4 linked regions of the Homo sapiens genome follow. The protein of the gene in region 3 purifies or fractionates together with the protein of the main gene of each other region. This does not show direct contact. Each region holds a gene or a part of one and is shown on either strand. Other genes may lie near its edges.

The links.
Region 1: the proteins of SULF2 (region 3) and PON2 purify together in Homo sapiens (affinity purification with mass spectrometry; 3 studies listed by BioGRID and IntAct, with this or other methods). This does not show direct contact.
Region 2: the proteins of SULF2 (region 3) and OS9 purify together in Homo sapiens (affinity purification with mass spectrometry; 2 studies listed by BioGRID and IntAct, with this or other methods). This does not show direct contact.
Region 4: the proteins of SULF2 (region 3) and SPON1 purify together in Homo sapiens (co-immunoprecipitation; 2 studies listed by BioGRID and IntAct, with this or other methods). This does not show direct contact.

Annotation. Positions count from the first base shown.
Region 1 is NC_000007.14:95,404,355-95,411,047, reverse strand, and holds the end of PON2 (serum paraoxonase/arylesterase 2), read left to right. Parts: intron 1-946; coding exon 947-1,147; intron 1,148-3,979; coding exon 3,980-4,061; intron 4,062-4,800; coding exon 4,801-4,929; intron 4,930-5,559; coding exon 5,560-5,718; 3' UTR 5,719-6,186; downstream 6,187-6,693. UniProt on the Homo sapiens protein: Capable of hydrolyzing lactones and a number of aromatic carboxylic acid esters. Has antioxidant activity. Is not associated with high density lipoprotein.
Region 2 is NC_000012.12:57,697,115-57,704,140, forward strand, and holds part of OS9 (protein OS-9 isoform 1 precursor), read left to right. Parts: intron 1-7,026. UniProt on the Homo sapiens protein: Lectin component of the HRD1 complex, which functions in endoplasmic reticulum (ER) quality control and ER-associated degradation (ERAD).
Region 3 is NC_000020.11:47,670,471-47,677,496, forward strand, and holds part of SULF2 (extracellular sulfatase Sulf-2 isoform a precursor), read right to left. Parts: intron 6,665-7,026; coding exon 6,608-6,664; intron 6,154-6,607; coding exon 6,024-6,153; intron 1,924-6,023; coding exon 1,728-1,923; intron 1-1,727. UniProt on the Homo sapiens protein: Exhibits arylsulfatase activity and highly specific endoglucosamine-6-sulfatase activity. It can remove sulfate from the C-6 position of glucosamine within specific subregions of intact heparin.
Region 4 is NC_000011.10:13,958,310-13,965,736, forward strand, and holds the start of SPON1 (spondin-1 precursor), read left to right. Parts: upstream 1-4,413; 5' UTR 4,414-4,595; coding exon 4,596-4,833; intron 4,834-4,847; exon of another isoform or gene 4,848-6,736; intron 6,737-7,427. UniProt on the Homo sapiens protein: Cell adhesion protein that promotes the attachment of spinal cord and sensory neuron cells and the outgrowth of neurites in vitro. May contribute to the growth and guidance of axons in both the spinal cord and the PNS.

The sequences.
Region 1 (6,693 bases), on a different chromosome or scaffold from region 3:
TTCTTTTAGTTTAAACTTGATGAATATTTTTAATTTCTAATGAAATTTCATTTCTAATGAAATTAAAAATATTGCCTATCTAGGGCCTATCTATGCCTATCTAGGGCATAAGCATGTAACTTCCAATCATTCCTTCCAAAAATGCACTTGATAAAAAAAAATAGGAGCATAAATACCATCCAAGCATTATGGTGCTCTTTCAGAAAAATGAGACCTACCTTCCCTGTAGCTCTATATTTTTCATTTAGCAAAGAATAAAGCAGCTCTTTCAGAAATTTTTGCATAGAGTAATTGGAATTTAAATTTAATAACACCCTCACCTAACTGGTCTTAAAATGAAATTGTTTTTAGCATATAAATCTCTCACCTGAAGCATTGTACTATGGCAATTTTATCATCCATCTCTCTGCAAGTGTTTATTGAGTGCCTGTTCATTCTCGGCATGTCAGCTTTGTGAAGCAGGTAGAAATTGAACAGTCAACCTTAGTTTGACTAATAACTAAGCCAGGGAAATTAGAAAAATCCAGGAACTGAGTAAATGGAAGCTAGGTAAATGTTACTGACTGCCTAACCAGCTCACCAGCCAATCAGGCTCTCTCCAGCTCTGTACTGTGGACAGCTCTGTCCTTACGTATAATTGTTAAACCCTACATTTCTTGCTGTCAAAAAACATGCCCTGATGGCACTAAGTTCTTTCTTCTCTTATGGTAATCCTGCCATAATTGCTAAATGACCTGTGTTCAGATTACCTGGTACCATACAAAATTGTTCTCTGGCAACAATATTATAGTATATTGTATATGACTATAGTCGTGATTTTTAGCTCGTCTTTTCCTCTTACCAAAAATTTAAAGCACATGTTGCATAAATCTTATGAGTACTTAATATTTAATATGGAGACCAACAGGCCTTTTGTTTCCTCTCACATGCTATTTTTCTTTTTCAGTGTGAATGACATCACAGCTGTTGGACCGGCACATTTCTATGCCACAAATGACCACTACTTCTCTGATCCTTTCTTAAAGTATTTAGAAACATACTTGAACTTACACTGGGCAAATGTTGTTTACTACAGTCCAAATGAAGTTAAAGTGGTAGCAGAAGGATTTGATTCAGCAAATGGGATCAATATTTCACCTGATGATAAGTATGGCCCCTTATAGAATATCTTCATTTTTCTTCAGTTGTGGTGCTGGCCAAATTCTTTACTTTGCTTTCTTTGTCAATGTGAAAATAGTTTTCTTGACATTTATGGTATATTATACATATAATATATAGATACACTATATATATAATTATATATGTTTTGTATATATATTTACATATACTTAGTCACATGTATTTATATGCAAATACAATACCATATTTAAGTAAACTATATAATACAGTAATATATATGTATTTATATATAATATATAAAGTTTGGAATACATCATTGTCAAATTTAATTTTATAAATATAAATTTTAAAGTGTGATCATACTGATGCATACATATTGAAGTATCAGGTATTTCCTTTTAAATAAATGTATTATTTTTATTGGCTATACATTATTCCATTATAAGGATGATCTTAAACTAATTTAACCAATTCTCTATTGATGGATATGTGTATAGGGGTGGGGAGTTCTACATAAAAAATATTTTATACTTCTTATTTACCATGGAATTTTAAACAAGTATTTTTTTTAAAGAAAAAGTCCCTAGGAGAGTGTTTTTTTTTTGTTTTGTTTTTTGGAGATGGAGTCTCACTCCGTCGCCCAGGCTGGAGTGCAATGGCATGATCTCAGCTCACCTCAACCTCCGCCTCCTGGGTTCAAGTGATTCTCCTGCCTCAGCCTCCCAAGTAGCTGGGATTATAGGCATGCGCCACCATGCTTGGCTAATTTTGTATTTTTAGTAGAGATGAGGTTTCTCCATGTTGGTCAGGCTAGTCTTGAACCTCCAACCTCAGGTGATCCGCCCACCTCAGCCTCCCGAAGTGCTGGGATTACAGGCATATGCCACCACACCTGGCTCTAAGAGAGTATTATAACATAATGGTTAAACTTGCAGATTTTGGACTCATACAGGCCTGGGTTCAAATCCCACCCAGGGCACTGGCTAAATGGTTCTATGAGCTACTTTTCTGTAGAACAGACCCCTAGAAATAGAACTATTTGCTCAAACAGTGTGATTCTTTTAAATGTTAACTTTAATAGATATTGCCAAATTGTCCTCCAGAATTATCTCATTATTTTTATATGCACAACCACAACCTATAAGAGAAGATATTAAATTCTTGATAGCTTTCTTATCTACTGCCTCAGCACACTGAAAAATTTAAACTACTACAAATACAACATAAAATAAATTTGGCACTCCTTGACAACTAAATGCCCTTATTTTTGTAATCCAATTTCTCCTCCTTTCTTGTTGACTATAGAAAAAGAATGTAGAATCATTTAATTTAAATTGTCTCTAACTGACCTGATCCAACCTCTGCAGCCAAATCTGTTTTTCACTCTTATATTTCCATTATGAGAGTCAAACTTTCCAATCACCCAAGCTAACAAAAAAATAACAATAATGAAAAGGGAGAATCAGCTTTTACTCCTCTTTCACCATTCCTATCCAGCCTGTAGGCAGGTCCTGTTGGTTCTACCTGTGCCTCCTTCCTCTACCCCCAAACTCCTTTCCCTTTGAGTGAGACCTGCCTAATTTAGGTTGTCATCCTCTCTGACTAGCATATGAGACTTTCTTCCAATTTGTTTTCTGTCTACTTGGATTTTTTTCACTCTTGCCAATTTTGTCTGTCTATCTCTATTAGCCTTGAAGGGCTCCCCAAAGAGGGAACTCTGTCTTCCTCACCTTTGACTCCTTATGCCAGTACAGTGCCAGGCACAAAGCAAATGCTCAGGAATTGTGGAACAGAACTGACCATTTGTTGCCACTTTATTATTCTAAGATTTCAGTGGAATCCAATTGCTTATCAAATCAAGGCAGGGTAAAGGGTTGGACTTTGTTTAACAGGCCACCTCCAACCTCCCTTTTCTACTATTTCCATGCTTTCTATGCTTTAGACAAAGAACTCATTGTTTTAAACATTCCTTCCTCTTCTTGCTCCTGTGATTCTGCTCTTGTGCTTGCTTCTGCCTGGGAAGTGCCTCCTCCGTCCTCATCTCAAATCTCATCTCTCTTTACACAGCCACTGCAGATGCCCCTTCCTTGGTGAGCCTTTCTGTGTCCTCGGAAGTTAGCTATTTCTAGACCTGAACTATTTCTCATGCTTATTAGGTGTTTAATGTGTACAAACCAGTGAGATTTGTTCCAACACACTATAAACTTTCAAGGAGAGAGGCTGTGTCTTCTTCATGTTTATATCTGCTGCAACACTGAGTTCATGGCTTTTCACACATAATTGCTCAACAGAGCAGGTGCCATGGAAAGTCAATTCAATGAGTAAAATTACCTCAAAATAGTCTGTTAATTCACTCACCTTTGAAGTAGACAGATTATTCTGCATTGATACTTATCTCTTACTCTTAAAATTCGCTATGTATTAATAAATATTTTATTGAATATTAAGGAATGATCACTATTTTAATAAGATGTTCTTTACCATATATTTCTATATGTACATGATAATTAGAAGTATCAAATTATATTGTGGAATGTAAAAGCTTTTCTTCTGAAGCCAAGCATTTGTTTTATTGTCATTTCAGTGGCAAATATGGACTTCATATTCAAAATGATGTTCTATATTATTTTTCCTTACAAGCTTTTTGAAAAACAATTTAATAATTCCATGATTGTTGTAGCACCACTGAATTGATTCTGAAAGCTTACTTTTTAAATAAAAATTGACCTTTATCAAGCATTCCTTGAGGGCCCATGATTGATTAACTTCTTGGCAGGTTATTAAGACTTATTCTTTCACACTGTATTAATGAAGCTTTATATTGGCATGGAGCTCTAACCACTGTGTCCTTTCTGCAAAGGTATATCTATGTTGCTGACATATTGGCTCATGAAATTCATGTTTTGGAAAAACACACTAATATGAATTTAACTCAGTTGAAGGTAAAATATTTATTTTTACATATAGACAGTAATCTATTATGCTTTGCAATGACATAGTTTTTCTATAAGAGTACCACACGTAGAACAAAATATGGATGCCAGTGTAGCTATTCTGGGTTTTTAAATACTCCCTACAACTAGAGAAAGCTCCTGTTTCCAGCGATCTCAAGAACTGACCATGATTACATGCAGCAGCAGGTTGAGAGTGATATTCATCAGATTTAGGGCCCATTCCATGAAGTATTGATGGCAGTGGAAGAATTCCAATAAGAATTTTCACAATTGAAAATACTAATAGATGAATTCTCAAATGAAGGTTTATGCACAGTGTCAGTTCTTTCAATAATACATGAAGGTAGAAATTGGGTTCCACACCATTATTATTTTCTTCCTACTCAACAACACATATTTTAGGTTGATTAAGAATTTCCTATCTTGCTTTGATTGAGTTCCTTGAGCTAACTGATCATTGTGCATCTTTTAAAGGAAAAGGAGTTCAGTTTTTAAGATAGATTTTTACAGAGACCGATTATCACCCTAACTTTCTTAATTTCAGGGAAGAAGAAAAGTGGCTCCAAACCAGTTTTTAATACATTCCTTTTAAGCAATATTGGTGTTAGAAGGTGGAAGCAGGGCGATGTGTAATTTCCTCACATGCATAGAGGCAGGAAGGTTACCTCTAAATTATTTAATCAAGTTTCTCATGTCATTTAGATTTTGACAATTTCTCATTTGGAAGGTACTTGAGCTGGATACACTGGTGGATAATTTATCTATTGATCCTTCCTCGGGGGACATCTGGGTAGGCTGTCATCCTAATGGCCAGAAGCTCTTCGTGTATGACCCGAACAATCCTCCCTCGTCAGAGGTTTTTATATTTTCAGTTTTTTAAACTTAATTATTCAAGTCCTTTTGAACTAATAATACAATAAATTGTCACAGGGATGATTTGTTTAGTTATTTTAAAGCAATAATATAATAAGCTTATGTCGTGGTTTTGTAATTGCGTTAAGCCAATAATTGGCAGAATGTTACATTGTTCAAATACTTTAAGAAAGGTAATCTTTTGATGTATTAAATTATGGTGGAAACTAGTCAAAAGGCATTTTTATAAAGACATGTGCCCTTCTTGGGTGGTATACTGGCAATTTTTAAAATATCTGATTTATTGTCAGCTCACCACATGATGTGATATTTGTTCATGTTGAAGTAGTGTGAAAGTAGGCACATTAGTATGAAAGTATTTCTATTAAAGCTGAATTGCTATAATAACACTAAATCCTGTGTTGGCATGGAATAACTAGATGGTTTTAAGAAAGTACTTTCTTTGAAGATTGGAGAAAGTACTTTAATTTAAACATTAAAAAGATTGGTAACTGCTATTTTCAACAGCATGTCCCCTTAATCAGTGTGTCATTGTGGAAAACAGGGCTTATTGATGATTGAGTGACATGCATGTACGGTGGTCTTATATTCATACTTTGTATCCCCTGAATAGGTTCTCCGCATCCAGAACATTCTATCTGAGAAGCCTACAGTGACTACAGTTTATGCCAACAATGGGTCTGTTCTCCAAGGAAGTTCTGTAGCCTCAGTGTATGATGGGAAGCTGCTCATAGGCACTTTATACCACAGAGCCTTGTATTGTGAACTCTAAATTGTACTTTTGGCATGAAAGTGCGATAACTTAACAATTAATTTTCTATGAATTGCTAATTCTGAGGGAATTTAACCAGCAACATTGACCCAGAAATGTATGGCATGTGTAGTTAATTTTATTCCAGTAAGGAACGGCCCTTTTAGTTCTTAGAGCACTTTTAACAAAAAAGGAAAATGAACAGGTTCTTTAAAATGCCAAGCAAGGGACAGAAAAGAAAGCTGCTTTCGAATAAAGTGAATACATTTTGCACAAAGTAAGCCTCACCTTTGCCTTCCAACTGCCAGAACATGGATTCCACTGAAATAGAGTGAATTATATTTCCTTAAAATGTGAGTGACCTCACTTCTGGCACTGTGACTACTATGGCTGTTTAGAACTACTGATAACGTATTTTGATGTTTTGTACTTACATCTTTGTTTACCATTAAAAAGTTGGAGTTATATTAAAGACTAACTAAAATCCCAGTTTTGTCTGTGTTTAATTCTGAAGGCATATGGCTAGGAGAAATGGGAAAGCAGCTGCTTCCTTATGGAGTTTGGATAGGCAAGCATGGCCATATTAATTTCTCTTGTGGAAAGCTGAAAGTGAATGGACTCTTAATTTGAAACAACAACAACAAAAATCAATGAAATATTGCAACTCAAATTCCCAGTTCCTAAGGAGGTTTCCATCAGCTCTCTTCCTTAATGGGAGTCCACTTTAGAGACAAAGAGGAAATAAGGGTTGGGACAGGAAGGTCTTGCCACCTCCTCATTGAACAGAACTGTGAACTAAAGCCAGGAGAATGAAGTCAGTCGTCCGTGACCACATGGTTAAGCAGCAGCAATGCTAGGATCAGGGCCGCGTGCCCAGCTCACAGAGGGAGAGTTTTTCTGCTCACTGTACCTCCTATAAAATCATCATAAGCCCTAGAGAGAGACTTTCATGTGTTTCTTTCCATTGTAATTTATCAAACCACTTTACTTCACTTC
Region 2 (7,026 bases), on a different chromosome or scaffold from region 3:
CAGTTGTGTGCTGGTAAGTGTTGGACCCCCAGATCTCTATGGGTGTGGGAGGGAAGCCCTGATCTGTAATGTTTGCCAATGCCTGTGGTATAAATACTCCCATGATGCGCAAGTCAAATGATGTCAACTGTCTTGCAACATTCTCCAAAACTTACCAGTTGGCTCCAACACACCTGTAAGTCTGCATCACTTCTCTGTTCAGTCCTGAAAAACCTTCAATGTTTCTGCCTTGCACAAAGGCTAAGAGCCAAATGTTTCAGCACAGACCAGGGTGGTGGCAGTGGAGGTGATGGGAAGTAGTTGGATTCTGGATATATTTTGAAGGTAGAGCCAATGAGATTTGTTGATGGTTTGGATGTGGGATAGAATCATGGATTACTTCAAGATTTTTGGCTTGAGCAACTGGAATGATGGAATTGTAATTTACTGAAGTGTGAAGGAACAGGTTTAGGGGAGGAAATTAGGTTGGTTTTGGATATTGAAGGTTGAGGTGCCTTTAGACATCCTAGTGGTGATGTCCAGTTGACAGTTGGCTCTGTGGTTCTGGAATTCAGGGACAAGGTCTGGGATAGAGATATAAGTACTCATTGTATTTCTGCCACACTGGCCTTTTTCTGTCCTTCGAACCAGTGGGTCTCATTGTTCCCTCTGCCTGGTGCAGTCTCCTGCAGATCTTTAAATGATTGGCCCCATCCCCTCATTCAGGTTATATTCAAGTGACAACTCCCAGGGAACCTAACATAAGCAAACACACACACACACACACACACACACACGGAACCTAACATAAGCAAACACACACACACACATACACACACACACACACACACACACACACACACACACACACACCCTATTGCTCCTGTCCTGGTAAGCATCCACAGTGTTTTGCATTCTTCAAAGCATGTATCATTACTTGAAATTATTGTATTTGTTTAATTCTGTCTTCCCTCACTAAGATAAGCTCTGGGAAGGCAGGGATGATGTCTATCTTGTTTTCTTATGTATCCACAGCTCCTGGAACAGTGCTTCACTCAAATAGGTACCTAGAAATTATTCATTGAATGAATGAAATGACTGACAAGCCAGTTCTAATATCACCTTTCTTGATTAACCCAGAAAATTAGTTAGTTGTGTTCCTTCACCACTTAATAATACAAGCATCCACACACGTATATAATCCGTTATAGCACTTCATTGTATTCTAGTTATTCGTTTGGGTGTTTGTATCTTCAGTAGGCCAAGAACTGAGGTCAAGACTGCATAGCTTCCTCATATCTGGTGAACATATGCCCTGTGCCAAGCACTAATAGAAACTAGGAACAAAAAGGTGGATGAGACCTAGTCCTGCTCTCAGGAGATATGTTAAATGAACAGCCACAACAAGCAGGATAAATGCCATGAGCAGTGAAGTGCAGCCCGCAGGGGAGCACACAGTCGGGACAGAGTCCAGGGTGAAAAGGAGGCCTCTTGGGAAAAGTGACCTTTGAACTGACATTGGAGGATGAGGAGTTAGACTAGCAGATGGAGAGGATGGTGGGGGGAATGAGAGGGCATTCCAAATGGAAGGTGCGCTAAGTGCAAAAGGCCTGGAGACAAGAGGCAATGGCCTATCCCAGGAACTGACAGATACTCACAGGGACTGAGGGGATAATCATGGGAAGAGGAGTGTAGGAGATGAGTCTGGGTGGTTGGTAGGGGACAGGTCATGAAGGGCTCTGTAGCTATGATGAGGAATTTAGACAATCCAAGAGACAATGGTTAGGGGAGGCAATGAGGTATTTGAAGCAGAATGATGACATATTCAGGTTTGGAATTGAAGGCCCACTCTAGCTGGAGTATAGCAAAGATTGAGAGCTCACTTAGGCAGCTGTGGTAATCCAGGTGTGAAATAAAAGTGGCCTGGGGATGAAGAAATGTGAATATTTAGAGACAGATTTAGGGGGTAAAATCAACAGAGTAAGAAGGAGTCAAGAATGATTTCCAGGCTTTTGGCTTGTGCAGTTAGATAGAGGGTGATTCGTGTTCCTGAGATAGGTATAATGAGAAGAGGAGTAGGTATGGTGAAGGAAAATGGTGAGTTTGGCTTTGAATATGATTTTAGTGGCTGCTAGGCATTCAAGTAGAGATTTCCAAGGGGGCTGTGGATCTCTGGGTCTGGAGTTCAGCAGAGAGATCTGAATTGAACCCAGAGGTGGGGAGTTGTCCTTGTATCAGCCATAACTGAAGCCAAGGTATGGATGAAATCCCCCAAAGAAAACAGTATCTAATGAGAAAAGTGGGATGGAACTTCAAGGAAGCCATCACTAAGAGCATGGGAAGAAGAGGGTTTTGCCAGAAGAAAGGGCCAGAGAGGAGGCTATGGTGACATGGAAACGAGGAAGGACACATTTGAAGGGGAAATTGGTCCATGGTGTTGGCTGTGCCTGAACCTTCAAGGAAGAGGAGGATTAAAAACTGCTTATAGGCAATCATAGTCATTATTATTTTAATAAAGGCAAAACATGTACATGGAAATAAAAAATTCAGACAGTAGAGAAGAGAGCCAGATGGAAAGTATAAATTCTCTACTTCCAGGCACCCCTGACCAGTCCTTTGGTTGGACTTAATGATAGAGATCATTGGTGATCTTTGCTGGGGCAATTTGAGCAGAGTTGTGAAGATGAGGTGTTGAGAAAAGTGGTGAAAAAGTGGAACTCTGCTGGGCGCGGTGGCTCATGCCTATAATCCCAGCACTTTGGGAGGCCAAGGCAGGCAAATCACTTGAGGTCAGGAGTTCAAGAACAGCCTGGCCAATATGGTGAAACCCCATGTCTACTAAAAATACAAAATTAGCCGGGTGTGGTGGTGGGCGCCTGTAATCCCAGCTACTCGGGAGGCTGAGGCAGGAGAATTGCTTGAACCCGGGAGGCGGAGGTCGCAGTGAGCTGATATCGCACCATTGCACTCCAGCCTGGGTGACAGAGTGAGACTGTCTCAAAAAAGAAAAAAAAGAAAAGAAAAAAAGAAAAAGAAACTGGAAATCTTTGAAGAAGTTTGGATATGAAAGGGAGATAAAAGGTAAGCATTAGTGAGAGGTGCTGGGGGGTTGAGAGAGGGGGCATTCTGTGGTTGGTGTGTGTTTTAAGATGGAACAGACTAGAACATGTTGAAGACTTGGGTGAATGTTAGTGGAGAGGAGGAGAGGGAAGTCAAGGTACAGTAGAGAGAATGTGAAAAGAATGTGGACAGGGATGGGATGCAGAACCCTGGGAGAGCAATTTGCCTCAAAAGGAAGGTCTAGGGTCGTAACTGGAATGGTGTATTTGCTAGTGAGTCTGGAGGTTTTGGTGGCAGAAAGTTGAGGCCATTCCTGTCTGGTTGCTTCTAGTTTTCAGTTCTTATGCCACTTGCCTAGGTGATCAGGTAAAGCCCCTACTCCAGGGCAGGCACTGTGATGTGTTGCTGGCCTGATGCCTCCTCAATAGGAACAGCGTGCATGTTGTTTAAAGTGCAGTCTCTGTGGGGCTAGGGAACAACTGGTTAGCTATATGGAATTAAATAAATTCCTATTTATTGGTGTGTGTTTTAAGATGCAACAGACTAGAACATGTTGAAGGCTGTTGGGTGGATGTTAGCGGAAAGGAGGAGAGGGAGATCAAGGTACAGTAGAAAAAGTGAGAAAAAAATGCGGACAGGGCTGGGATGCAGAACCCTGGGAGAGCAATTTGCCTCTAAAGGAAGGTCTAGGGTAGTAGACCAACTCAATTCTTATAAAGTAAGATTCTAGAGATATCAAAGATTTTTTTAAGTTATAAAACATACAATTATACAAAAAAAAATGTCATAGAGACCCATAAATTCACTGCCAAGTTAAACAGATGTTAATGTTTTGCCTGATTTGTTTCAGATCTCTGGTTTAAAAAAAGGAATAAAATGCTTGTGCTAATAGCTAAAGCCCACCTTCATATTTAGTCACTCTCCCTCCCGCCAGAAACAACCACAACCCTCACTATGTTTGTTTTGTATTTTTATTACTGATATATATATTACAGACAATAGATAGTGTTTTGTGTTTTAAAATTATACATCAGGAGTATCAACTTGTTTTTTTCACTGATCAGTGTGTTTGCCATTCAATGGCATGACATGGAACTCTGGTTGAGTGATTTTTTTTTTTTTTTTTTTTTTTTTTTTTTTGAGACAGAGTCTCGCTCTGTCACCCAGGCTGGAATACAGTAGTGCAATCTAGGCTCACTGCAACCTCGGCCTCCTGGGTTCAAGCGATTCTGCTGCCTCAGCCTCCTGAGTAGCTGGGACTATAGGTGCCCACCACCACGCCCAGTTAATTTTTATATTTTTAGTAGGGAAGGGGTTTCACCATGTTGGCCAGGCTGGTCTTGAACTCCTGACCTCAAGTGATCCACCCACCTTGGCCTCCCAAAGTGCTGGGATTACAGGTGTGAGCCACCGTGCCTGGCCTGGTTGAGTGATTTTAATGTCTGTATTGTGTTTCATTGCTTACTTACCCATTCCTCTGTTGATAAACAGTTGGGTTTCAACTCTAATGCCCTTATACACAGTGCTGCAATGTAGGTCTTATTGTGAGTGTACAAGAATTTCTCCAGGGAAATACCTAGAAAGTAGAATCACTGGGTTACAGGAGTGTATGTTATTGGTGAATTCAATTTTTTGTTTGTTTTGTTTTGTTTTGTTTTTTGAGATAGAGTTTCACTCTTGTTGCCCAGGCTGGAGTGCAATGGCGTGATCTTGGCTCACTGCAACCTCCGCCTCCCAGGATCAAGCGATTGTCCTGCCTCAGCCTCCTGAGTAGCTGGGACTACAGGCGCCTGCCACCATGCCCAGCTAATTTTTGTATTTTTAGTGGAGACGGGGTTTCACCATGTTGGCCAGGCTGGTCTTGAACTCCTTACATTGTGATCCGTCCACCTTGGCCTCCCAAAGTGCTGGGATTACAGGTGTGAGCCACCATGCCTGGCCCTCAATTTTTTTAATGATTGAAAAAATATATAACCTAAAAGTTATCATTCTAACAGTCTTTAAGTGTACAATTCAGTGGAAACATTCAGTGTTCTATCACCATCACTACTATTTCCAAAACTTTTTTCATCATCCCAAACAAAAATAACTCCTATTTCTCCCTCTCCCAGACTCTGTTCTACTTTCTGTCTGTATGAGTTTCCTGTTCTAGGTACTTCACATGAGTGAAATCATACAAGATTTGTCCTTTTGTGTCTGGCTTATTTCACTTAGCATGGTGTTTTCAAGGTTCATCCATGTTGTAGCATATATCAGAATTTTATTTCTTTTTATGGCTTAATCATGTTCCATTGTCTGTATATACATTTTGTTTACCTATTTATCAATGGATGGACAAATAGGTTTTCATCTTTTGGTTACTGTGAATAATGCTGCGATGAACATTGGTGTACAAGTATCTGTTTGAGTCCTGTTTTCAATTCTTTTGGGTCTGTACCTAGGAGTAGAATGTGCCTTATGGTAATTCTAGGTTTAGTTTTTTGAGGAACTGCCAAACTGTTTTCCATAGCAGTTGCATCATTTTACATTCCTAGTAGCAGTGCACAGGGTTCCAGTTTCTCCACACTACCTCCATCACTTATTTTCCTTTGTTTTCTTTTTCTTTTTTTTCAGTAATAGCCATCTTAATGGGTGTGAAGTAGTATCTCATAGTGGTTTTTGATTTGCATTTACCTAGTGATTAATGATGTTGAACATCTTTTCATATGCTTGGTGACCATTTGTATATCTTTTTTGGAGAAATGTCTATTCAAATCCTCTGCCCATTTTTGAATTGAGTTGGTTTTTGTTGGTGAGTTGTGAGAGTTCTTTATGTAATAAATTCTGAATATTAATCCCTTATCAGATCTATGATTTGTAAGTATTTTCTCCCATCCTGTGGTTGCCTTTTTACTATCTTTTGTTTTGCTTTGTTTTTTGGAGACAGAGTTTCACTCTTGTTGCCCAGGCTGGAGTGTAATGGCGCGATCTCAGCTCACTGCAACCTCCGCCTCCCAGGTTCAAGCGATTCTCCTGCATCAGCAGTGTCCTTTGGTGCACAAAAGCTTTTAATTTTGATTTCCAAGAGTTTTATAGTTTTAGCTCTTAAATTTAGGTCTTTGATTCATTTGAGGTTAATTTTTTTTTCTTAGAGATGGGGGTCTCGTTATGTTGCCCAGGCTAGCCTCAAACTCCTGGGCTCAGGTAAGCTTCCTACTTCAGCTTCTGAGTAGGTGGGATTATAGGGGTGTGCCATTGTGCCCAGCTGCTGATTTTGAGTTAATTTTTGTATGTGGTGTAATTTTTGCATATGGTCCAACTTCATTGTTTTGAATATGGATATCCAGTTTTCCTGGCATCGTTTGTTGAAAAGACTGTCCTTTCCCCATGGAATATTCTTGGTATCCTTACCAAAAATCAGTTGACCATATATGTGAGGGTTTATTTCTGGCCTTTCTATACTATTCCATTGGTAAATATGTCTGTCTTTTTGCCAGTATCACACTGTTTTGATTATAGTAGCTTTGTATTAAGATTTAAGTCAGGAAATGTGAGTCCTCTAACTTTGTTCTTTTTTTAATATTGTTATGGATATTTGGGATCCCTGGACATTCCATGTGAATTTTAAGATTTTTTTTTTTCTATAAAAAACACCATTGGATGCCTTTCATTTCTTTTTCATTCCTAATCACTCTAAAACTTCCAGTATTATGTTGAATAGAAATGAAAAGAATGGCTGTCCTTGTCTTGTTCCTAATCTTAAGGGAGAAGCTTTCAATGTTTCACCATTGAGTATGACGTTAACTGTGGGTTTTTCTTATATGGACTTTATCAATAACTGAAGACATTCCCTCCTATTCCTAGTTGATTGTTTTTTTACATGAAAAGGTTATTGAATTTATCAAGTCCATTTTCTGCATCAGTTGAGATGATCATTTGGGTTTTTTCCCCTTCATTCTATTAATGTATATGACATTGATTTACCTATGTTGAACCATCCTTGCATTC
Region 3 (7,026 bases):
CGTGAGCCACTGTGCCCGATCAGGAAGGAGATTCCAACACAGGCTACCATGTGGATGAACCCGGAGAACATTATGCGAAGAGAAATAAGCCAGCCACAGAAGGACAAATACTGTACAATTCCACTTACATGAGGCCCCTAAAGCAGTCAAGCTCATAGAGAAGAAGAGTGGTTGCTGAGAACGGGTGGGAGAATGGGGTGACAGCAGGGTGGGAGAGCGGGGTGGGAGAACGGGGTGGGGGTGGGAGCGGGGTGGGAGAATGGGGAGATAACGTTGAATGGGGACAGTTGTAGTTTTGCAAGATGAAGAGTTCATTTAGCAGATAGGTTGCGTACTAGTGGGAATATAGTTGACACTACTGGATACTTAAAAATGGTTAAGATGATAAATTTTATGGGAATTTCACCATAATTTTTTTTAAAAACAACACCTAAAATCTCTCATTAGGCTTTGGCTGTCCTTAGGCCAGAGAAATGGGCTACGTGGGAAGCTGCCCAGCCTTGGAGGGCACACTTCTAGCCGGCGGACCCCGACGCCTCCACACATTTTCAGGGCACAGGCTCATTCTTGTTTTAAAGTCATGCAGGGACCATTCTTCCTGTTTGATGGTGGGAGCTGAGCCTCAGAATGGTGAAGCGATGGCCCAGGGTGGCGGCTGAGCCTTCTGGCTGGGTCTAGAAGAGTCCCTCTCTCCACTTCGCCTGCTCCCTGGCTTCTGTCTGACTGTCCTCTCCTCGGCCCTTGCCGAGAATGAGGTGTGAAGGTGTAGACACTTCTTCAGCTGAGTGAGGCTTTTCCCCACTCAACTATAGTCTATTTTTGTTCTTCAGGGTAGTTTATTTTTTATTTTTTTTGAGACCGAGTCTCACTCTGTCGCCCAGGCTGGAGCACAATGGCGTGATCTCAGCTATCTGCAACCTCTGCTCCCGGGTTCAAGCGACTCTGCTGCCACACCACACGCCCAACTAATTTTTTGTATTTTTAGTAGAGATGGGGTTTCACCATGTTGGCCAGGCTGGTCTTGAACTCCTGACCTCAAGTGATCTGTCCACCTCGGCCTCTCAAAGTGCTGGGATTACAGGTGTGAGCCACCGCGCCCAGCCCAGGGTAGTTCTATAAACTCACCACAAACACTGACTAATTGAACGCTGAAACATGGCTCCTAGGGGAAGCACAGAGCTGGGTTCCTGTGAACCTCTGGTCCTAGCATTTTCACCAGCCAATCAATACAGAACCTTGTATGTGTGTTTCTTCCTTTTTTTTGAGATGGATCTCGCTCTGTTGCCCAGGCTGGAGTGCAGTGGCACAATCTCGGGTCACTGCAGCCTCTGCCTCCTGGGTTCAAGCGATTCTCATGCCTCAGCCTCCCAAGTAGCTGGGATTACAAGCGTGAGCCACCACATCTGGCTAATTGTTGTATTTTTAGACGGGGTTTTACCATGTTGGCCAGGCTGGTCTGGAGCTCCTGACCTCAGGTGATCTGCCTGCCTCGGACTCCCAAAGTACTGGGATTACAGGCGTGAGCCATTGCGCCTGGCCTTATCTGTTTATTACTACTGCTCCCCACTAGAATGGGTGGCTCGTGAGGAGATGTGGCTGTGTCCCCAGCCCCTAGATCACCACCTGGCAAAGTGACAGTCTCTGTGGAACTGTCGGAGTGAATGAATGGGGCCCCCCAGGCATGGTCTCTCTCCTCCTGTCCCACTCAGCCAGGTTGTGACACTTACTCTTCTTGAAGAGTTTTTTCCGGCGTCCGGCCAGGCTGAGCTTGTAGTCCCCGCTGTCACAGGTGCAGGCCTCGCTGCCCTGCCCGTAGTACTTGGGCACGAGGTTGGAGAGGGCTCTGCTGCCGCCCAGCCGCATGGGGCCCTTGCACTTATGCAGCTTCAGCTTCCCCGTGGCGTCCTCCACACACTGCCACTTCTGAAAGACATGCCAGGGCCTCGGCCAGCTGCTCATCTGCTCCCCTAAACCCGCCTCTCCCCTGCCACCCCCATCCACCCTGGAGACATCCCTCTCCCTGCTTGCATCCAGCTGTTACCGAGCCCCACCTCTGCTATCTCCAATGCCGCTTCTCTCCACTGCCACTGCTTGAACCTTGGGCAGAGCTACCATCATCCCCCAGCGAGATGCCTCCGACAGCCACCACTCTCACGGTTACCTGCTTCTGTCTGCTCCTAAAATCCACCCACATGGCAGCTAGAGGAATCTTTTTAAAGGGCAAGTTGGATCATATTACTCTCCTACTTAAAACCCTTCAATGGCTCCCACTGTCTTTAAGACAAGACCCAAGCTCCTGATACTAGTCTTTGAACATCCTCTGCAATCTGGCCCTGGCCTACCCATCGGTCCTCCTCTCCCTCAGCCCTCTCTCCAGTATCCCCTGTGGGCTGCTGCCCCAGGGACTTGGCGCTCACTGTTCCTTCTGCCTAGAATGCCTTTTCTCCAGCCCTTCCTGCTGCTGGAGGCTTCTCTTCCTTCCCGTCTGCTCCAGCGCAAGGAGGTCTCCCCTGACCACCTTCCCAGACTCAATCAGTGCAGTGTGTGCAGAGGCTCCACGTGTGCACTCAACTCCAGGCCTGTGGTCAGACGCTGAATGTAGATAGAATCACTGTCCAAATCTCTCGTGTTGATCCTTCTGCTCTTCCCCAGTTCCAGCCTCCTGGATCCCCTCACGGGATTCTGCAACCACCTGTAAACTGGATTCTCTTCCCTTCTGTCCACAGCTGCTCCAGCCCATTGACCCAGTGACTCTTTAGGGCCTATTCTGTGCCAAAGTGACCTTTCCAGGCCATGGGTCAGATCTGTTCCCTGTGTCTCTCCAGCACTTAGCATGTGCCAAGCACTGTGTGTTAATATATTAACTTGCTTACTACACCTCACGCTACCCTACGAGGCAGGTGCTGTCATTACTGTGCCGATTCAAGATGAGGCACACGGAGGTAGAGAGATGTGTCCTGGGTCACACAACTGGGAGGTGCAAGAGCTGTAAGGAAAAGTGTGGAGTCTGGTGCCACCATCCCCCCCAACCCTCTGCTGCACCGTCTGCCCCCGCCCGCTGCCGTTGAAGGCCCTGGTGCCTTTCACCTGCTCATCTTGCCCCTGTCCCGCCCATCTGTTCTCACCTGGAGGCTGAATCTAATTGCATTCACAGCGCCCTGCCACCCTCCCATCCCCTTCAATGCATGCAGGCCCTTCCAGCAACCTGGATTCCTTAGTGCAGAAGTAGACTGATGGGCCAGCAGGCATGGCCCTGAATGAGGCCAGCCCAGAAGCGCCTGGGGGACCTGGGGAGGCTAAAGTGGGCACTGTGACCGGCTATACCCATCTGACTGTCGCCAGAGGGGAGCACAGGCCCAGAAGCCCAGGTCTGATTTTTCAAGAAAAGCCAGGGCTCTGAGTTCTGCGTGAAGCCCTGAGCTGTGTGCGCTGGCGAGCAGCCTCCTGTCCACTTAGCTCTCTCTGCCTGGAATTCTCCTTCCCCACTGCCTGCTCCCCGCTCCAACCCAACAAACTCAGCTGGGGCACGACTTGAGGGGTCGGCAAACAGCAGCCCTCTTGCTAGTCAACTCCAGCCCACAGCCTGTTTTTGTATGGCCTGCAAACCAAGGACGGTTTTTACATTGTACGTTTTCAGAGTTGTAAAAAGCAAGAACAAAAACAAATATGTGGCCTGCAAAGCCCAAACTATTTACTGTCTGATCTTGTGCGGAAAGGGTTTGCTGCCCCTGCAACTACTCATGTAGAAGCCGTGTCCACATGGCCCGTCCCGAGGCTGTCCTGGCGGGGGCGGCGCCTGAGCCCCACAGGGCTGGGCCAGTGTCGGCTTGACTTGGGGTCCCTACAGCTGCTGAGAACGAAGGTCCCGCAGCCCAACTACCTGGGTTCAAATCCTGCCTCCACCACTTGAAGCTGTGAGGCTGTGGGCAGTTTGCCTGAGCCCTGGGCCTCAGTTTCCCCGTGTACAGAACATACCTGCCAGATAGGGTGGCTGGAGGTAGAGCTTACACTCACGTGTTGCCCGTGATGATCATCATTACGAGGTGCCCAGGGCACATTTACTCCTGCCCGGCCTGGGCCCTGGTCTGGGCTTTGGCAATGATGACATGAATTCTAGCCGGGCCCTGCCCTTAGGATGTCCCCGTGTCACCGGGAGACAGACAGATGCACATGAGCTCGGTTCCTGGGCACGTTTGTTCAGCAAATGACAAAAAAACATCTACCACGTGGGGTAGCACGGACAAGGTACCCAAGACAATGCTATGGCTGGGTGTGAGGCCCCTAAGAGACGTCCTCGGGCCACAGGGTACAGCTTCTACACTGGGCAGGGCATTCCAGAAGGCACGGCACAAGCAGGGACATGGCAACGGCACTCGGGGAGTACCGGCTTGTGAGCAGGGCCGTTGCCTGGGATGGGGGGCAGACGTCTGAGCCTGAGGTCCCCAAAGCTCCGGGGCTGGGTCGGGGGCCGTGGGTTGCTGCCTCCCAGCTGGCCTAGGCTAAGTGCCCCAAACTCCGCCCTCAGCACTCTCTTCCTTTGGCTTCAGTGGTGTGCTCTGATTGTTTGGAAAATGCTGATACCTCCTCTTTCTTGGCCCCAGCAAAGAGGTCATTCTGGCTGCCCAAGCCCTGATCTGGGTCAGGGGAGACATCAGAAAGAACCAGTGGGGGACTTGACAACGTTCCCTCGTCGAGGGGCAAAGACTTCCTGGCCTCCTCATTTCACTCCTTTTAGCCCAGAACTAAAATCAGAACCACTTCTGGGATCTCGGTACAAAGTCAAGGCTGAACTCTCTCCAGAACATCAGCTCTGGGAGGGCAGGAGCTTCTGTTGAGCATGTTCGAGGCTGTGGCCCTGCGCCTAGGACAGTGCCTGGCAAGCGGGGGGACGCATTCATGCTGTACAACGGAGGGATGAAATCCACAGCTCCTGCCCGGTGGCAGATACGGGTTAATTGTGTGACTAAGAGGGGTCTGTGGGTTTACAAACACACACTGGGTGGGGAGGCACAGTCAGGCCTGTATGGGCCTGTACTAATTCTGTGTGCAGTGTTAAGATGGAGTCATTCAAATGCAGTCCATCAGAAACGCATCCACTTCAGGCCTTGGCCTTCAATACCAGGGCCCTGGTTTTGCTTTTTCTCATAGGTGAAACAGGCACACAGCTCCAGCCCCAGCTCAAAGTCCCAGCCTTTGACAGGCAGGGCAGGGACACACCTCCGGCACCCCTTGGGCCAGCCAAGGCAGAGTTTCCATCCCACTCCCCTCCCTGCCCTGCCCCGCCCCCGACCCTCCTCTCCAAGCCTGCCCTGGCTTTCCAGCCTCAGAAAAGCCTCCTTCAGGCTTTCCCAAACATGTCAGTTTCTGGCTATCTCTGATACTTCCCAGATAATTTTCTTTTTTCTTATGTTTTTAGAGACAGGGTCTTATTCTGTCACCCAAGCTGGAGTGCAGTGGCGCAATCATAGCTCACTGCAGCCTCCAACACGTGGGCTCAAGCCATCCTCCCGCCTCAGCTCTGGAGTAGCTGGGACCTCAGGCATGAGCCACGGACTGTTCCTGGCCATAATTTCCTTAATATTTCTCTTGCAATCAATTCACTTTTTAAAACCTTACCTATATTTATTTTAAAAAGCCATGTCTTATTACTCCTATAAAAGGAAAACCAGTCACAAAGAGGATACTGTCAAAGTGAATATGGTGAAAATAAAATAATTTAACTCCTGCTGGGGCCTTCGTGCAAGAGAGATCGGCAAGGGCTAGAGAGGCGCTAAGGGCATACACACACCCACGGGACACTTGGCCTCTGACACGGTCAGGGTCCAAAGGCTGCTGAGAAATGAATCACTTATTGTGAGCATCATCCTGCACCACCAAACAGCATCTTGGGCACCACACGGCAGCAAAGGACTACCCGTTGGGAGGCCCTGGCCCTGCTGGCTCAGCGGCTCTCAGAGCCTCGCAGGTCAGGGCCGGCTGCAGTCAGGAGGGGGAGCCGTTGGGAGGGAAGGGAGCCTTCTTACCTGTCCCAGCTGCTCACACGCCGTCTGGTACTCAGCACGCTGACACAGGTCCTTCACACGCTGGTACTTGGGCAGAAAGTTCTCCTCCTGGGCGTCCACCTTGTCATTGTCTCTCTTGTGTAGCAGCTTGCTATGGGGCAGAGAGCAGGAGCCGCGGGGCCGGCCTCTCAGCTCTGGAGGAGCCCCGGAGGCATGTGTGCCCACCTAGAGGGGTGCCCCCTCGGCTCCGGCTTTTCCTCACAGTGGAGGGCGCAGGGCCACCTGCCCGGGTCTTCTGATGTTTAGGAAACTTAAGACATTGGAATTTTATAAGAAACTTCCCAAATTGCATGAGTTGGCAATAAATTAAATAAATTGAAGACATTGTAGAGGCTGGACAAAGCATGCCAAAAGCGTACACGTGACCTCAGACCCCAATTCTGTGTCTATAGGAGCAGTGAATGGGCTTTGTGTTTAGGGGCCTTTGGACCAACTTCAGAGCCATGGGCAGCTCCTGAATAGCATGATGCGGTGGGGCTACAGAAGCTTCCTGGGCAGAGGGAGGGAGGTGGGCAGGGGTGTCCCTCCCAGGACCCGGCACTCACCCTCTCTCCACCAAGAAGGAGTCCCGCCAGACCCTCATCTTCTTTTTCAAGTGAAACCTGGAAAAAAGCACGGCTCCTGCTTCTCAGCAACATGAGGGCTTCCCACGACCCCCCGTTCCCCCAGGAGCAGGGACGGCACCAGGAGTCAGCCTTGGTTTACGGTCAGCCTGGACAGCAATTGTGGTGAGTGTGCCCAGCTGGGCACTAGAGCATTGCCCACCCTCCTCTGAGTTGAGCCACCCCTTCCCCAGAGACTTGGGTCTGGAGACACACACAGTAGAAATGACCCAGGTCAAAATCACTGTAAGTCCCACCCAAGTAACTGTGTGTGTGTGTGTGTGTGTGTGTGTGTGCGCGCACACACATCTCAAGCCCCTCCCAGGAAGCCCAGCAACTCCCCCGGCACTAGACGAGCTCTA
Region 4 (7,427 bases), on a different chromosome or scaffold from region 3:
TGTTTCTCAAAATCCCACAAGGTAGGCAAGATGGGTATTACTATGTCCAATTTTGCACATAATCCGTGTAGATAGGTCCTGTGACTTTCCAAGACTGCACAGCTTCACATGGTGAAAACAGAAGAGCCAGCCTGGAACCCATGTACTTCAAGTCTGAATTACGGTCTAGGACGACGGTTCCTTAAACTTCAGTATGAGTTTTTCTTCAAAGTACAGATTTAGTAGGTCTGGGATGAGGTTTCGGAATCTGCCTTTGAAGCAAACATCTGATGCTCATGTTTCAATGACCATACTCAGAAAAACACTAATCTAGAAAATCCTTTTCCCCCTTCTCTCTTAAAGCGGGGAGAAAAAAGAGGGAGATCTTACCTCCTATGAATCAAAGGACTTTTCTCGCCTTGGAGAACTGGAGCCCCCAGCTCTTCTCTTCTGCGACCTACCCACACACACTGATAAAGTTAATTATCTGCCCTGGCTAAATGACTTTCCTTAGCAACACCCTAGCAACTGACATCAGCTCTGCCTTAGGCTACAAAAACTGGAAGGAGATTTCTTGAAGTCCAGTATATTTTACAAAAGAACAAAACATCTGAACAGGAAATTAAGGGGAAAGTAAACTGGATTCATTGCTAGGAGATGAGAAATAGACACATGAAATAGTTCATGACAATCCACTGGACCACAGTAGTCAAAATGGGAAACTTTTTCTCCTCCTCAGTTCTACTGAAGTCCACAGGAGGGGAGACTGCAGGATCTCATTCTATGGAGGAAAATTTAATCAGGCAGGAGGAGGGAGGGCATTCCAGGCCATGAGAAAGCTGTAAGCAAAGGTGCTGAGGCAATACTGAAGTGGAGGACACGGGGAGCCCAGCTGGGTGGTGCTGGGAGCTCAGATTGGGATCTATGACCAGGCATGACCAGATGGACACAGTGAGACCAGATTGTGGATGGCCTTAGAGGCCAAGTCTTAAAATTTGGGCAGAGTCAGAAGGCACTGAGGGTAGGCTTGTTAAAAAGTTTTTATTCAGAGAAAAAATATTTATGGAACCCCTACCAGGGGCCGGGCACTACGATGTGCACGGAAAATACAGTGGTAAGCCCCATAGACATCCCCTACCCTTCTGGAGCTTAGAATTTAGAATGGAGACAAATACTGAACAAATGTAAAATTTTAAACATCAAACTTATAAATCAATGGGTCATTATAAATCTTAATATTAAAAGAAGCCAGGTGTGGTGGCTCATGCCTGTAGTCCCAACACTTTGGGAGGCTGAGGCAGGAAGATTGCTTGAGCCCAAGAGTTTGAGACCAACCTGAGCAACATAGGAAGACCCTGCCTCAAGAAGAAAGAAGAAAGAGGAAAGGAGAAAGGAGAAAGAAGAAGGAGGAGGAGGAGAGGGAGGAGGAAGAAGGAAGAAGAAGGAGGAGGAGGAGGAGGAGATTAAAAGAAAAGGTACTCATGAGCTTCAGCAGAGTTTTGGGGGCTGGATCTATTCTAGGAAATCAGAAAGGCCTTCTTTGGGGAGGCAGTTTTGCACTGAGATCTGAAGAGTACATAGGAGTTGGCCAATGGAGAGTGGTGGCTAGGAGAGACCAAAGAGCATGATAGGATTCCAGGCAGAGAGAACAGCACAGGCAAAGCCCATGAGAGAAGAGCTGCATGGCTGGAGAAGCAGATCAAGCAGAGCCTTGGAGGCCTGGCTGAAGATTCTGTCTTTATTCTGAGAGCCCTGAAAAACCACCAAGAAAAAATGTTAACCTCAGGATTGACATTCAAATCTGCATTTTTAAAAAGATCACTTGGGCTTCAGTGCAGAAGACAGATGGAAGGAGAGCACAAGTAGACAAGGGCAACCCAGTTAGGAAGATGAGAGAGGATGTCAACACAGACAGGGGTAGTGGTGGAGAAGAGCGTGAAACTTGATGTGGTGATGGATCGGATGAGTGGAGAAGACAGCAGAGGTCTGAGTGACAGCCAAGCTGGTTTAGGAAAACCTAGCTCATGTAGTGGGATTGGAGCTTGGTGAGCTGGTTAGAGCCTGCCGTCATAGCCCAGATGATAGGGCGAACACTGTGTACTGGAAAGTACCTCATTTGGTGTTGGGGATGCCTGTTTTAAATCCTGGCTCTTTCCCTTAATAGCCATGGAACATTACCTCAGCAGGTAATTTCATAGGCTCCTAATCTGAACAATGGGAGTGCGGAGGTGAATTGGGACTGCCTACTTCCCATAGTTTTCCTGTCAATATCCAATAAAAAGTTAAATATTGCATTCCTGCCTACTTCATGCCCACCCATCTCCAACTTAGATTTGAACCTTTTGTAGATGAATAGAGGTTCAAGAGCACAGATTTGAGCTTTCAGACATAAAATAAGCTTTGTGAAGACAGGGGTCACAATTTATTCATTTCTGTAGTTTCCTGCCCTCTGAGATAAGATCAGGTACACTTTCAAGAACCACTTATTTTAGTTTGTAGCATACATCACAATTATAATTTTAAAAGATTCATATAATTATGTATTTAATATTTGCCTTTGCCACAGGCCTGTAAAATCCTCAAAGGCAAGTAACATATCTGTGTTTTGTATCCAAGCACTGAGCACGTGGAGGGTCTTTGTCATGAATGAATGGATGGATAGAAGGATGCATGGATGGATGGATGGATGAATTTTTGTTCCGTCTTCTACCTACCGGTCAGCACAGAGTCTAGCTCCAAATCTACACTTAATGAAAGTTTGCTGGATGAATGGGACCGTGCAACTTGGAGTGCAGCATGAGCTCTGAGCCAGTCGAGTGAAGATGCAGACAATTCCCTCAGCACTCAGACATGGATCTGAGCCTCACCTCAAAAAGGAGGGCCGATCAGCTGGATCAGGTGCTGCTAGGGTCAAGAAGGGCTAGGGATGAGAGAAGAGCATAATTGGCTTCAGCAAGGGGTTACTTTCAGGTGACCTCTGAGAGAAGGCGTCCAGTTAATAGTGGCAGTGGGAATTCCAGCACAAGCACTAAGGAGTAAGTGGGCAGGCAGGGAGGAATGGAGATCTCCCATGCACCTAGCGCCCTGGGCCTGTTTGTAGCATTATGAAAGAGAAAACCCTGACCTGGAAAGCAAAGGAGATTGCTTGCTAATTGTAGGCACTTGAGGTGTGTCGAAGGCCCTGGGCAAAGAGAAGACGAGGAAACCAAAGCTTCTGAGGGCACCTGGGGAGGGATGTTTGTGTGCACTGAGAGGCAGGGGGCTTATGGTATCCCCAAGCGGGTGAGGGAGCAGGCGCCACTAGAGACCAACTAGAGTGTTTTATATGGGTCATATCATTTACTTCTAGCATATCACCCCACTACCTCTAAGAAGGATGTACTGGCACCCACCCCCACTTCCTTGTTCTCCAGAGCAGGAAACAAGCTTGGAGAGTGCGATAACTAGCCCAAGCTTCACAATGGGTGAGTGGCAGGACTGAGGTTTGATTCGGGTCTCTTCCCAGAGAGACACTGGGAGAGATTCTTGCCCCAGGTCTTTTCCCTTCAGGCCCTCAGGCTCAGCACCTCTCTGAACATCTGTCCCTGGGGAGTGAGAATCTGAACTAAAATGTAAGCCAAGAAAACACAGGCTCTTCATTGAATCTTTGGAAACTCCTTTCCTGGGCTGTAGGAGGACCTTCCTGAGCCTTAGGCACTTTTGCCTTTGCTGGCTCTTTCCTCCAAGTCAAGCATATTTTATGACTGTGGAGGTATAAATACAAATATATTAACATTATATAGTAAAACATTTTGTTTGACATAAATTTTTTCTTCTGATTTTTACAGAAAACATTTTCATAGATCTCCAAAAGTATCGTGGGCCCTAAGCGCTGTAGCTAAGTCGTTTCTCCTTTCTCAGCCTCCAGTCTGACATGTTCCACTATGGCCTTGGGAAGAGCAATGGGCCCGGAGTCGCCGCATCTAACCCTGCTGTAACTGGTCGCAAGTCACAGTTTGCTCATCTATAAAGTGAGCGAAAGTAATGTAATCTTTATTGGGAGTAGGGAACATGAAGGCGAGTCGATACAGTAAGTAAGCCGCCAAGCATATTGCTAGGCACAGAGCAGGTGTGCAACAAAAGTTATTTCTCAGGCTTTCCCTCCTCTGAGCGCCGTCCTCCAGAGGGTCCGGAGTGTAGCTGGGGGTTGGAGCAGCAGCCTCCTAGGCGATGGGACAGAGCCCACAGGGTCCGGTATGCCACGGTTTCTTCGTCAGACCCTGGGAATCCAACGTCGCAAAATAAACACGGCCGCGCCGCTAATCGCCAGTTCGGAGGAAACAAAACAGCGCTGCGCTGGGGGATCTGGGCAAAATCAGCCCTCCCTCCTCCCGCTCCTTCGCCGCGGCCCTCCCCTCCTCGCGCTGCTCTCGTTCGCTTGGCTCAGCTCAGCTCAGCTCAGCGCAGCTCCGCGGCCGCCAAGCCGAGGCGGGCACGGTCTCCGAGTCGCGGACGCCAGCTCCGAGCTCCCTCTCTCCGCCGCGCCTCCGCCAGGTCGCGCCTTCGTCGGGACCACTTCGGGCAGGAGTCGCGTGGCGAAGGCCTGCGGCCGCGGCACAAAGTTGGGGGCCGCGAAGATGAGGCTGTCCCCGGCGCCCCTGAAGCTGAGCCGGACTCCGGCACTGCTGGCCCTGGCGCTGCCCCTGGCCGCGGCGCTGGCCTTCTCCGACGAGACCCTGGACAAAGTGCCCAAGTCAGAGGGCTACTGCAGCCGTATCCTGCGCGCCCAGGGCACGCGGCGCGAGGGCTACACCGAGTTCAGCCTCCGCGTGGAGGGCGACCCCGACTTCTACAAGCCGGGAACCAGCTACCGCGGTAAGTGGCCGCCCGGCGTGGCATTAGGAGAGCGGGACCCGGTCCCCGGAGGGCGCCGACCTCGCGGTGCCGGAGGAGGGCGCGCGGTCTCCGGGCGCGTGGCGCGGGTGCAGCCCGGCAAGGGCCCTTCTGTCCTGGCTGCCCTCGGCCCTTGCAGTCGCGAGCTCGGCGCGGATCATAATCCAGCGTCCCGGGCCGTCGCGGGGGCCGCAGCCAGGAGAGGCACCCCGCGTTTCCGACGCGCGGTTCCCAGGCGGAGGATGTAACTGAGCCACACGTCACGCCGGCCTGACTGCAAGGGAGGCTCGCTTCTCCCCCGGCCGTCTGCAGGAGGGAAGTAAAACTGCCTTTCTCCAAATCGGTCTGGAGGGGACCCAGGCTTCTCTTGGTCGGGTCCCGGGCAAGGCAGCCACTCCAGCTTTCCCCGCTCAGTCCCTGAAGGAGAGGGTACCCGATTCTCAAAGACTGGCCCTGGGCGGGACAGCCACTCCGGCTTCCCTGGATAGGTCCCTTCAGGAGAAGGGACTTTGGCTTCTCCCTAACCGGTCCCGGGGTGCGGGAAGGAGGGGCAGGGACAGCCTAAAGCTCCTCGAAAGGGTCCTTGGAAAGAACCCCAAATTATTCTCTCGTGGTCCCAGACGAGATAGAGTATCTTGGGTTTCCAGAACAGGTTCCCAGTGGGGACAGGGTCCTCAAAGAGCTTGGGGTAAGCTCCGAGCTGCAAGGGGAATTGGATGAAGATGGAAAGAGAAGCCCCGATGCCCGAGGCCTGCTCCCTGGAGGCCGGGGAACCTTGGCTCCGGCAGCTCGGAGTCTCCACGTCCCAGGGATGTCGCGCCTACGCCGCTCGGCTGAGAGTGGGGTTTCGGGAGCTCAGGGAGGAGGTGTCCAAGCAGGTGAGAGCCTCCTAGGCGGGACAGGCAGTTCGACCAGCACCGATCTGAAGACGCCTGACTCTGTCCCCACGCCCGCCACCTCGCTCCTCAGCAGGGTCATCTCCCCAGACATCGTTTCCCCGTGCAGCAGCAGCCGCTCTCCGGGTGGGGGACAGGTAACCAGGAAGGGAAGCGAGCCTGTCTGGCCTCACCTTAGCTCCCGCCAGGGAGCGTGTCCTCTCACCCTCGCCCCTTCATAAGTCAGCTCTGGTGCTAAGCAGGGATGAGCGGGTCACTGGGGCACCTGGTGGGGCAAATGGGCTCCCAGCTGCTGTACTTTCCTCCTCGCCTTCCCAGTTCCCCAGAGAGCCTTGGACGGAAGCGGTGGGAGCAACACAGGAGAAAGTCTGGGGCAGCGTCAGCGGGCGCCAGGGTCACGCCGGAGACCAAAGCCAGGGGCCACCCTTCTTGGAGCGCTTTTCCCCCTTTCCCGGGTTTGTGTCCCCGACTTTCTCCACCCGGAGCTACCCAAAGCCGGCTCCTTGGTGCCCTTGGCACCTTGGCGTGCTGAGCACTTTGCGAGGAACAGTCTGACCCCGGCGCGCAGCTCCGCGGGATCCTGGGTACTCCACGAAGAAAGATTCTGGGCGGAGAACACCCCGCCCAGCCCGGGAGGGAGCGCGCGGCTTGGCACCGCGGCTAGAGCGAGCCGCGCCGACGGGCGGCGACTGCCACTCGGTGCAGCCGGGAGGCGGCCGATCCTCCCTGTGGACCGCAGGGAAGCGGGTATGACTTCAGTGGCCTATTCGGCCCTCCCCAAAACTGAGGACCTGAGTTCACAGGGGAAACTGTCCCCGCTCCACGTAGCAGAGAAAGAAGTGGCTCTGGAGTCCAACAGACTTGGGTTTACTCGCTGTGTGACCTTGTGCAAGTCATTTAATTTCTCTGCACCTATTTCCTAGCTGGAAAAAAAAAAAAGCTGTTTATCCACCCTCTCTTGGTGGTAGGGAGTAAATGAGTTTACAAAGGTGAGTGTGCCTGAGCTAAAAGAGATTCCTAATAAGCCTAACAGTTGAATGTGAGGCCTTTATTGGTTTACTAATGGAGGTAGGTTCTTGATCAGATTTTTGTTTTTGAAGAGTGTTGTGCGTTTGAAAGCAGGTTTCCTCAGCTCTCCTCCAGTCCCATTCATCTACCAGTGGTTATTTGGGTCCTCATGAATTAATTGAATGAATGAATGAGGTATTTTTTCATATCAGGAGCCTTGCCTAAGACTGTTGCTAATGCAAGCCCAGGAAGATTTTTTCAGTGACTTAGACTAGTCTGAGGTTCAGGCCAAGTGTACCCAGCGTCTCTTTTCACACTAATCCTCCGTGTTTTAGTTGAGCATTGGCAGCTGGTGGCCCTAGCACTGGGAAGGAGATACAGCTGGTATTCACGGGGCCAAAGAGGTTTCAGAACTACCTAAACGTCCAGGGCCAGCAGGTGGGGAACTGGGACTGGATAGGGAGTGTCCTGGACTTTCACCCTACAGGCTACTCCTGCCTAAACAGCCATCTGGACTTTGACACCCCAACTCAGGCTATAGATTGGGCAATCATCTTTTCTCCCTTCTTATGGCTAAAAGACCTTGGAAGAGATCTTGCAGGAACCATGCTGAGGTTTTCCAAGTAAATATCCTGCAATTAGCAAACCTGATTCTGCCACTCAAAGTCCGAA